Regions from separate parts of the Homo sapiens genome. Here region 1 is linked to region 2. Evidence: fine-mapped expression QTL. A gene starts in region 2. The other region holds a variant in brackets. All regions are shown on one strand. Distances are between the middles of the regions. Region 1 overlaps SLC16A9 (solute carrier family 16 member 9). Region 2 holds the start of SLC16A9 (solute carrier family 16 member 9).

Region 1 (5,454 bases), 32 kb after region 2:
AGCTCATCCTCATTACATATATTCCTAGGGTCTCTGAGCTAGGGATGCCAATATAGAAAACACCATCCATGTTTCTAAAAGGTTTGTAGTCTCAGGGAAGAGACAGAAAAAAAAGGTAACTAATAATTTGAGAATTCACAAATATCAAGGAGAATAGCAATGGCAAAACAATCTCTGAGGTTTTAGAGGGATAGCCTTTGAGGAAGCTATTGAGATGGGCCAGATAGGAAGATGGACTTTCATAGGCAGATAGACAGGGAGAGGGAAGTCCATGCAAATTACCTTTATGCAGAGGCCTGGATTTGGTACTGCAGAGGCTGTGTTCTCATGGAGTAAATTTGGCTGGAAAGGAGGGATTGTGTTGGGAGGTGTGACGGTCAGTTTTATGTTTCAACTTGGCTAGGTTACATTCTCCAGTTGTTCAAACACCAATCTAGGTGTTGCTGGGAAGTTATTTTGTAGATGTGAATAAAGTGCATAGTCACTTAACTTTAAATAAGGTAGCTTATCCTAGAAAATCTAGATGGATTTGGCTCAATTGTTGAAAGGCTTTAAGAGCAGAAATGAGCTTTCCCAAAAGAAGAAATTCTGCTTGTAATTGTAGCTGCAGCCTATCCCTGAGAGTTCCAACATGCCCTTCCTAATGGCCTCCTCTGCAAATTTTTGACTTGGTTAGCTAGGCAGGTATTGTCTGGCTGCCTAGTATGGTTGTTTCAAACGTGTAAGCCAATTCCTTGCAACAAATGTCTTAATATATGCTTCCTACTGGTTTTGTTTTTCTGGTTGAAACTTGACTGATATGGGAAGAATGGAAGGTAACTGAACTAGAGAGCTATCATGGCCTTGCATTGTTTTAAGATGAGCTAACACACCCTTTGGCTAGATATTGTTCTCCAAATTCAAGGAAACGGTGGTTCTGTTTCTCACACTACCCAAGTGCTGAAACAGCAGGAAATAGCACGGAGATCTAGTCTGCAGTTTTGTACTCAAAGCAGATTTGAGAGTCCTTGCCCTCTCCCTTTTGTCTTCACTTCCTCCAAAGGTGTTCAAACTCATAATACGAGTCAGTAAACGCATCACCATGTTAATATAATGAGTCAGTATGGCCAGGCCCACTTGCTGAATGAGTTATGAGTGCTGGCAGAGCTGGGTTTGGGCATTACCCCTAAGCACTGTTAACTCCTTCAAGGAGTACTGAATTCCTGCTTCTCTCAAGGATTCTGTTGCATTGGCAGGTTCCCAGTGTGCTAGGCAGTTTTAAGATTGGTGGCCGGGCGCGGTGGCTCACGCCTGTAATCCCAGCACTTTGGGAGGCCGAGGCGGGTGGATCATGAGGTCAGGAGATCGAGACCATCCTGGCTAACAAGGTGAAAACCCGTCTCTACTAAAAATACAAAAAATTAGCCGGGCGCGGTGGCGGGCGCCTGTAGTCCCAGCTACTCGGGAGGCTGAGGCAGGAGAATGGCGTGAACCCGGGAAGCGGAGCTTGCAGTGAGCCGAGATTGCGCCACTGCAGTCCGCAGTCCGGCCTGGGCGACAGAGCGAGACTCCGTCTCAAAAAAAAGAAAAAGAAAAAGAAAAAAAAAAGATTGGTAGGAATAAAGACCAGGTTTTGGTTAAGCTTTCTGCCATCTCTAAATACCACCAAACCCACTAAAATGAAAGGCAGTCAGGGTATATGAGATCAACAATTTGAGTGGGTGTGGCTCCTTAGTGCCTTTTTCTTTCTCAAGGAGATGAACTTGAGATTTACAGTCTTTGCTGGAGCAAGGATTGAGGAACCTGCAATTTGGAGGAGCTCACACCTTGGGCTCCCTGAATTTTAGATGGAAAGGTAGGACCTTCACAGGCCCAACTGATCCACTCTGTTAGGAAATCCTTGCTGCATGGCAGGTCCATAACCTGGTTACTACTATATTCTGTTTCTCACTGTAGCATCAGCCAACTTATGTATTCACTGCAGCAGACCTGGCCATCCTTCTACTCCTGGGACTCTCTGAAACTTTTTAGGAAAAAGAAGTGTGACACAGGAAGGGGAACATCACACTCTGGGGACTGTTGTGGGGTGGGGGGAGGGGGGAGGGATAGCATTGGGAGATATACCTAATGCTAGAGGGCGAGTTAGTGGGTGCAGCGCACCAGCATGGCACATGTATACATATGTAACTAACCTGCACATTGTGCACATGTACCCTAAAACTTAAAGTATAATAATAATAAATTAAAAAAATAATAATAAAAGTAGCTAAACTTAAAAAAAAAAGTGCGTGGAGGTTGAGTTTATTTCCTAAAGGGAATAATTTCATTCCCAAAACTATCCTATAATAAATTAAAAACTGAAAAATCACGTTATGTTTCTGTTCCCTCCATTTAGAATAGATGTTCATCCCTTTTGTTGACATAACCATACTTCGCAGCCTAGTTCAAGGCTTAGTTCTGTGGCCTTGGTTTTTCTTCCTCTTATGAAATCCCCAAACAAGCCGTCTGAACCTTTCTTTTGGTGCTTTTGGCCTTGGGTTTTATTTTAAACCTTGATGCGAGTTTGTTTTGCCTCTTGTCTGAGTCCTGGATTGTGTTTGATTTCTCTGTGTCCTTTTCTAACATGATATGAGATTCTAGTACTGTGCTGTCCAGTAGGGTGGGCACATGTGGCTACTGGGCACCTGAAATGTGGCTTATTCCAGTTTAGATGAGCTATAGGTATAATAAATACACACTGCGCTGGGTGTAGTGGCTCATGCCTATAATACTTAGAGCTTTGGGAGGCTGAGGCAGGAGGATCACTTGAGACCAGGAGTTTAAGACCAG[T/C]CTGGGCAACATAATGAGACCCTGTCTCTATAATTTTTTTTTTTTTAATTAGCCAGGAGTGGTGGTAACTTGGGAGGCTGAGGCAATAGTGGCTTCTAAACACCAATACTGACAACAATAATATTGGCTCTTGAACACTAATATGCAGGCAGTGGTAAGTTCGGGAAAAACTTTCACCAAAGGCAAAATGAATATAAAGGCAATGATAGAGGAAATGTATGAGTGTGTGTGTGTGTGTGAAGTTCCTATTATCTTCTTACTGTCTTGCATTTTATTCCAAAATTACATCCTTCTCACTATTAGCTTATTTAAACATTTCTTCTTCTCTAATTAAGCAGTAGTAATAATAGATGGTTATTACTTTTTTTTTTTTTTTTTTTGAGACAAGAGTTTTGCTCATTGCCCAGGCTGGAGCACAGTGGCGTGATCCCAGCTCACTGCAACCTCCACCTTCCCGGTTCATGCAATTCTCCTGCCTCAGCCTACCGAGTAGCTGGGATTACAGGCATGTGTCATCACACCTGGCTAATTTTTGTATTTTTAGTAGAGGCAGGGTTTCGCCATGTTGGCCAACCTGGTCTTGAACTCCTGACCTCAGGTGTTCCACCTGCCTTGGCCTCACAAAGTGCTGGGATTACAGGCTTGAGCCACCATGCCTGGCCAGTTATTATATTTTTAAAGTATCTTGTGAAAATAAAACATTAGGAACCCTTGCCCCTTTTTCCCCCCCTTTTTTCCCTAAAATTGTTCAGGTTCAAAGGTGTGGAATCACTGGTTCATGTCACAGGTAAACTAACTTTTGTTCCAAAGTTCCCTTCTGCAGAGTTTTCACTTTGCATTGTAAGAAATCTCCTGAAAGTAGCCCTTTGATTTAATCTGTCTCTTGAAACTCATCCAGTGCTGAGGAATAATAGATGGTTTATCATCTTGAGGCCTTGCACAGTTACTACAAAGAGCTAAATACATAAATATATCACATTTTGCAGATGTGACTTGATGGTCACTTTGATACATTTTGTCTTGTTATTGCTGAAATATGAGGCTATTGTGTTTTAAATCTATGTGAATAGAATCTATAAATAAACCCAGGTTCTAAGGATAAGGGTAAAATAATTTTGCTCTAAACTATTGAACACCAAGTGATTATAAATTTTATGTTTTCATCTAACATAAGTTCATAAAGCTATGTTATCTATAAGACATTAACAAAAGTACCATTACCAGTGGTGAATCCATACAGGTCTGCATCAGACTTGATCCTTGCTTCCTTGGAGGAAAGAATTCCGCCAGGGGGCAGAAGTGGGTTTAAAGCAGAGAAAGAGACCAAGGCAAGTTTTAGAGCCGGAGTGAGAGTTTATTAAAAAATTTTAGAGCAGGAGTGAAAGGAAGTATTTACACTTGGAAGAGGGCCATGTGGGCAACTTGAGAGATTCAGGTGCCCCATTCAGTCCTTGACTTGGGGTTTTACAAGTTGGCATGGTTCTGGGGTTTTTCCTTCTCTCTTGATTCTTTCCTTATGGTTGGCTGTTGCTCAACTGCTGCATAGGCAGTGTTGGTCATTTGGGAGGGTGACCACGTGCATAGTGTGTTTACTGAGGCTGTGCTCATGCTCCGTAGGGGCAGTTTTCCTTTACCAGTCAAATGCCCCCAGAGGAAGGTCGTACATCCACCATTTTGCCTCTTAGTGAGCATGCCAGAGTCCACTTGTCCAACTCCTGAGATCTTATTGGGAAGCTGCTGATCACCAGCTCCAGGTGTTTTCTGTCTACTGGGAGACTCTCTTCCCCTGGTGTTGGCTGTGGCCAATTATCATTTCAGAAAAACAGTTTAATAAACATCTGACCATCACCTGATGGTTACTGGAAATTCCTGGGTGAGGCGAGGGCTCTCCTGCCCTGCTCATGTCTGCCTAACTACCTACTCTAACAGTACCTTGATGTTCTTTACTAGTAATTTGATTTCTAGGAAAAAATTAAGATCCCAATTGAACTATTTCTCAATCAGGGAGAATGCTGGTCTGACTTTGGCCTTAGACCTGTCATTGGCTAGCTATGGACTCTTGGTCAAATCACATGATCTTTCTGAGTTCCAGTTTCACCATTTTTAAATTGAGGTGTTTAGACCGTTTTCAACTTCCAAAATTTCAGCTCTAAAATTTTTTGTCTTTAATCTCTGACCTAATGATATATTTCTCTAAATCAGCAGCAGATGGCAATGTGAAAGTAGAGAATTTTAAACCCTGTTTCCATTTGCTGTTTCCACTGTAAGAGAATTTCTGTTCATTTTTTCCTAATGCTTAAATTGTTCTTCAAAAAAAATCATTTGTTAGGCAAAAAAAGTGACTTAAGAATTTATCACATAGTTGATAACAATGCTGTATATTTCATACAGCAGTGGCTTTGGTTGTACATGTTATGAAAATTATTACTCCTCCATCTTGCCCCCACACTCCCAGGCTCTGAGGCTTCCTCATGGAATTAGCATGCATTAAAGAGCATAAAGTCCTATTTTGAGGATGAAACTTGAAACTTTTCAAGTATGCCAGGAATAATCTCTGTGTGTTTCAATTCCAATGTGTTGTAAAATTTGTGAACACTGAAACTCAATGTCAATGTAGTTTGGTAACAACAGAGAAGGGTCATGCCT
Region 2 (5,000 bases):
CCAGGCACAATTTCCTTGTCCCCAAAACATAAGTTCATATACATTGATTGGTTTGAGCAACAATCAAGATAACATGTGCTCTGGTGCTTAGGAAGTATTTGAATCAAAGACAGACTTTCTAAAATTACCTTTCATTGGCTGGGTGCGGTGGCTCACACCTGTAATCTCAGCACTTTGGAGGCCAAGGCGGTGGATCACTTGAGGTTAGGCGTTCAAGACCAGGCCAACGTGGTGAAACCCCATATCCACTAAAAATACAAAAATTAGCCAGGTATAGTGCTGCGTGCCTGTAATCCCAGCTACTCAGGAGGCTGAGGCAGGAGAATTGCTTGAACCCTGGGAGATGGAGGTTGCAATGAGCTGAGATCACGCCGCTGCACTCCAGCCTGGGCAACAGAGCAAGACTCCATCTCAAAAAAACTATTTTATTGAAACATAGAGAAAAGAACACAAATTATCAGTGTATAGGTCAACGCATTACCACAAAGTGAACGCACTTGAGTAACCATAAACCAGGTAAAAAAATACAGCCTAAGAATCCCCTATTGTGTTCCCTTGCCTCTTTAGAAGTAAGTTTTTTATGGTGTTGACAGTACAGTTTCTCCATTTTTCCTTCCAGAACTTATTCTTGGGACCATGTTGCTCTCATTCTCACTGTTACTTTTCCCCTCTTCTCTTTTTCCTTCTTAGAACAAAACAAAATACTATTGACTAGCAGTGGTCATTCTCTTCACTCTAACCTGAAAGTCAATAAATTGAGTAGAAAGGACTGATGGGGGCCAAAAGGGCTGAACCTCCACCACATTTGTGCTGTAAGAAAACATGACATGGTTGCCTAGGCTCCACAGGTTTTTTAAACTCTCATCTCACACAAACTCCATGATACAGGCAAGATTCTTGTAATTTCATAGACAAGGAAACAGAGGCTCAGCAGCTTGATCAGCACTTCTGAAACCAACCCTTTGCCAGGTGTAGAGTCTTCGTCTAGGCCAGGACCTGTCACTTCAGTGTATAAAGGAAGTTCTCATCAAGGTGGTTGATGGCCGCAGTCCCCTTTAAGAAGTAGAAAGTGTGGTGCGGCTTCCCAGAAAAAACACAGAGGAACACAAAAAGTGCATATCACTTTGGAGGTTTCCCACGGCCGGCGAACCACTGGTACCTATGGACAGCCCCCAGCTGCTGCAGTGACTGAGGGATAAAACAGCCATCCATCTCTGCGCGCAAGCCCATTACCAAAGATAGTATTGCCAATGGTAGTATTGTTAGTGCAGTTCAACTGCAGGACAGACTGAACGTCCTTAGAAGCAGCCTGTGTGTGTGTGTGTGTGTGTGTGTGTGTGTGTGTGTGTGTGTGTGTGTGCACCGCAGGACGCCCTCCTTTCCCGCGGAGCTGTCACAAAGGACTGTACTTGGCATCCTCACTCCTCACTTCCCAGGATCACGGACTCCACAAAGTTCTGGTGCCCGTTTCTCCGGGACCACTGCCAGCTGAGCATACAGCTCCGGCCAGGAGGGCGCCAGCGGCCCCGGGAGCCAGGGAGACCAAGGAACACTCGCATTCATTTGTACACCCCGGCTCCCCCCAAACGCGCACGGCCCTTGGCGGGCTTGGCCAGGGCACGTGGTGGGCGGCGGGGGCACAGCGGCGCCTGGGGACGCGCGTGTGTGCGCACCGAGAGGGCGCCTGGCCGACGGCGCCCACCTCTCTCGTGGCTTTGGTGGCTCCAGGCCTGGTAGGGCCGGGGCCGCGGCTCGGGCAGTGCCCTCCCTACTCCTGGCCGGGCCGGGAGCAGCGGGAGCAGGCGCAGCGCCCCTACCGCCCGCTTTTCCGCCTCCATCTCCTCCGCCTCCTCCTCCTCCTTCCCCCAACCACCCGCGCAGTCACAACCGGTTCAGACTGGCCGGGGTGCCCCGCAAAGAGAGACAAGGGAGAAAAAGACAGCAGGGAAAACCCCGGGGAGGAGAAGGCGAAAGAGAAGGTGGAGCTCAGAGAAGGGGGCCGGCTCCCCAGCTCCATGTGGCCGCCGCCGCTGCGGGTCTGTGGGGGCAGAGGGCGGCGGCTCCCGGGGCAGCGCGTAGCGGGACCGATTGCCTAATACTCCGGCAGGGGCCGGGGCCGCAGCTGGCTCGGATAAATAGCCGCCCGGCTGGCCCGGAGCTGCAGGGGAGAGCGGCGGCCGCGATCCCCACCACACCACCAGCCCGGCCGCACGGGGCACTGAGCCGGGTGCTGAGCACCGGAGGCCCCGCCGAGGCCGGGACTCAGGTAAAGGGCTGGAGCTTGCGGGGAGGGTTCCAAAGGTGGGCAGCAGCCCCTGCTGCCCAGCGTCCTAGAGGCAAGAAGTAACTCCGACTCGGAGCAGTAGGAGGGGGCGGTGGAGCAGCATGGAACCGGGCTTTTGTCTGGGGTGTGTGCCGGGGGCTTCGAGTGTCCACGGTGCGCCCGCCCCTCGCCGCCCCCTTTTTGATGGGGTGCTTCTACAAAGTGGGCAAGTTTTCCCGGGAATCCGAAGGCGGCATTTTGTACGGAGTTGAAAGAGAGGGAGGGGGTCCTGGGGGTGGTACGGTGGCCCCCCAGAGAGCTGCCTCTGGACTCCAGAGAGCTTCCAGGGTTGCTGGTGGAAGAGCAGGGAGAGGTGCATGTGATGCAGGTGGGCCTCCATTTCCCAGAGGACCGAAAGGCCTCCAACTGCCTTGGTCCGGAGCGCGAGCAACCAGGTGCCCCCGGAGGGTTGGGAATGGGGCGCCGCGGGTACTCCTGACCTACGTGGAGCGCAGCGCGCAGGGCCGGCGGATTCTGCACGTTGGCGCCAGGTTCAGCACCACCCGGCAGCCCTGGGCGAGCGCGGGAGCCCAGCCTTCGCCACCGCCGCAGGAGGCACCGGCACCGCGCCCACCTGGACCCTCAGCCAGCACTTGGGAGGACTTGGTGCTTAATGCCCCATCTTTGGTTCGCCCTAGGTAACCTGCTCTGGCTTCAGCAGCGCCCAGAGGCTTTCCAGAGAGCTGATAACCACGAACAAACTTGGCTGTCAAAAGCAAATCAATGCTTTACCTTGTTTTCTGGGTGCCTAGTCTATCCAACACAAACTATCCCCGAAGTTTAGTCAGGATTTACGCTAAATATATTACTTATATAGTAAGTTATTCGATATAACATTTTTGGTCAATTTTCTAGGCTACAGTTTTGATGTGTTTTTTAAAAATCTTGAATTAACTGAATAACAGTTCATATTGAAGGTGGATTCTCCCATTCCCTGCACCCAGGATTTTCCGTTGTTCCATCAAATTCTGTAAATCGGTATGCCCTAACAGTTTCTTATATTTGAGTTGGCTTCAGCTTCGAGAAATTCTTCAGGCAGGTTTAGGCAGAGGGCTGAGGAAGCTAGAGAAGATTCCGAAGAGAAAGGATGATTATTTGTTGCATGATTATAGCTTCTTTTAAAACTTCTAATAGGAAAACCCTTCCACTTTCCTGGACCAAATGCAGAGTAAAGTCATTTTCTATTATCTGTTGCAATAATTAATAATAAATATGTAAATGCAGAAAACATGGTTAGTACCCATATCATTGCCAGAAACCAGTCCCGCTCTCCCTCCACCATCAAAAAAAAGTCCTCGCAAGTAGGAATTAGATAAAATAATTTAACCTGCAATTTTGCAACAACTCAGACTTTCAGCACCACCGACCCCCTAATAACATCCCTACTGGTTTCTTCCATTTTTTGTGTAGGCAAGTGGAATAACAGGTATCCTTCATATCCATAGGAAGAGCATTGGGAGGAGCCAAAGATATGGGGAGGTAGATCAAGACATTAGGAAATCTTTTCTGGCTTCTGACTTTGAGTCTGAAAAGGTGGTGTGAATTGGTTGGTGTCTGAATCTTTATCAGGACACATTATGGTGGTCTGGGGTGGATCTGGCCATGCAACTCAAGCTAGAGGATGACAACTACAGAGATGTGGTCACATTTTCAAGTTTTACTTCCTTACCTCAATCTTTCAAACCCCTAATTAATTAGGTAATAAAAATTGTATATATTTATGATGCACACAACACAGTATTTTGAAACAGTAATACATTGTAGAATGGCCCAACCAACATAATTAACCTATATGTATTACGTCACATTTTTATCTTTTGTTTTTTTTTTTTTTTTGGTGTGGTGAGAACACTTCAAATCTACCATCTTAACAATTTTCAAAATTGTGACTATAGTGACTATAGTCACTATGTTGCACAATAGATCTCTTAAACTTATTGCTCCTATCTAACTGAAATTTTGTATCCTTTGACAAACATCTCTTCACCCCAACCCTACCTACTGGTAACCAGGGTTCTACTCTATTCTCTGAGTTCAACAATTTTAGATTCAAGTCTCCCTTCCCTTCCCTTCCCCTCCCTTCCCCTCCCTTCCCTTCCCTTCCCTTCCCTTCCCTTCCCTTCCCTTCCCTTCCCTTCCCTTCCCTCCTCTCCCCTCCCCTCCTCTGCCCTCCCCTCTTTTCCTTCCCTCTTTTCTTCTCTCTCTTCTCTCTCTCTCTTTCTTCTCACTGCAGCCTCGACTTCACCAGGCTCAGGTGATCCTCGCACCTCAGCCTCCCGAGTAGCTGGGACTACAAGCGTGTGCCACCACACCCAGGTAATTTCTGTGTTTTTGTAGAGATGGGGTTTCGCCATGGTTCCCAAGCTGGATTACAGGCATGAGCCACTGTGCCCAGCTGACTTCCCTTTTTTTTTTTTTTTTTGAGATGGAGTTTCACTCTTTTTTTTGAGATGGAGTTTTGCTGTTGTCACCCAGGCTGGAGTGCAGTGGCTCAATCTTGGCTTACTGCAACCTCTGCCTCCCGGGTTCAAGCAGTTCTTCTGCCTCAGCCTCCCGAGTAGCTGGCATTACAGGTGCGTGCCACCATGCCTGGCTAATTTTTTGTATCTTTAGTAGAGATGGGGTTTCACCATGTTGGCCAGGCTGGTCTCGAACTTCTGACCTCAGGTGATCAACC

What was found. PIP is the estimated chance that this variant, and not a neighbour inherited with it, causes the effect.
Region 1: its variant is the best candidate, but not a certain one, in a credible set for the expression of SLC16A9 in T cells (TOPMed, PIP 0.52).

The regions. Positions count from the first base shown.
Region 1 is chr10:59,674,657-59,680,110 of GRCh38, reverse strand. All of the region lies in intron 2 of SLC16A9 (solute carrier family 16 member 9), which reads left to right. Among named protein-coding and RNA genes, the nearest start is that of SLC16A9, 32 kb to the left of the region's middle. The variant T/C (reference allele first, on the strand shown) is at 2,809.
Region 2 is chr10:59,706,745-59,711,744 of GRCh38, reverse strand. SLC16A9 (solute carrier family 16 member 9) reads left to right here and starts at 1,895. Exons shown (of 6, transcript NM_194298.3): 1 at 1,895-2,266. RefSeq lists silencers at 1,553-1,822, 2,053-2,122, 2,263-2,322 and an enhancer at 2,553-2,752.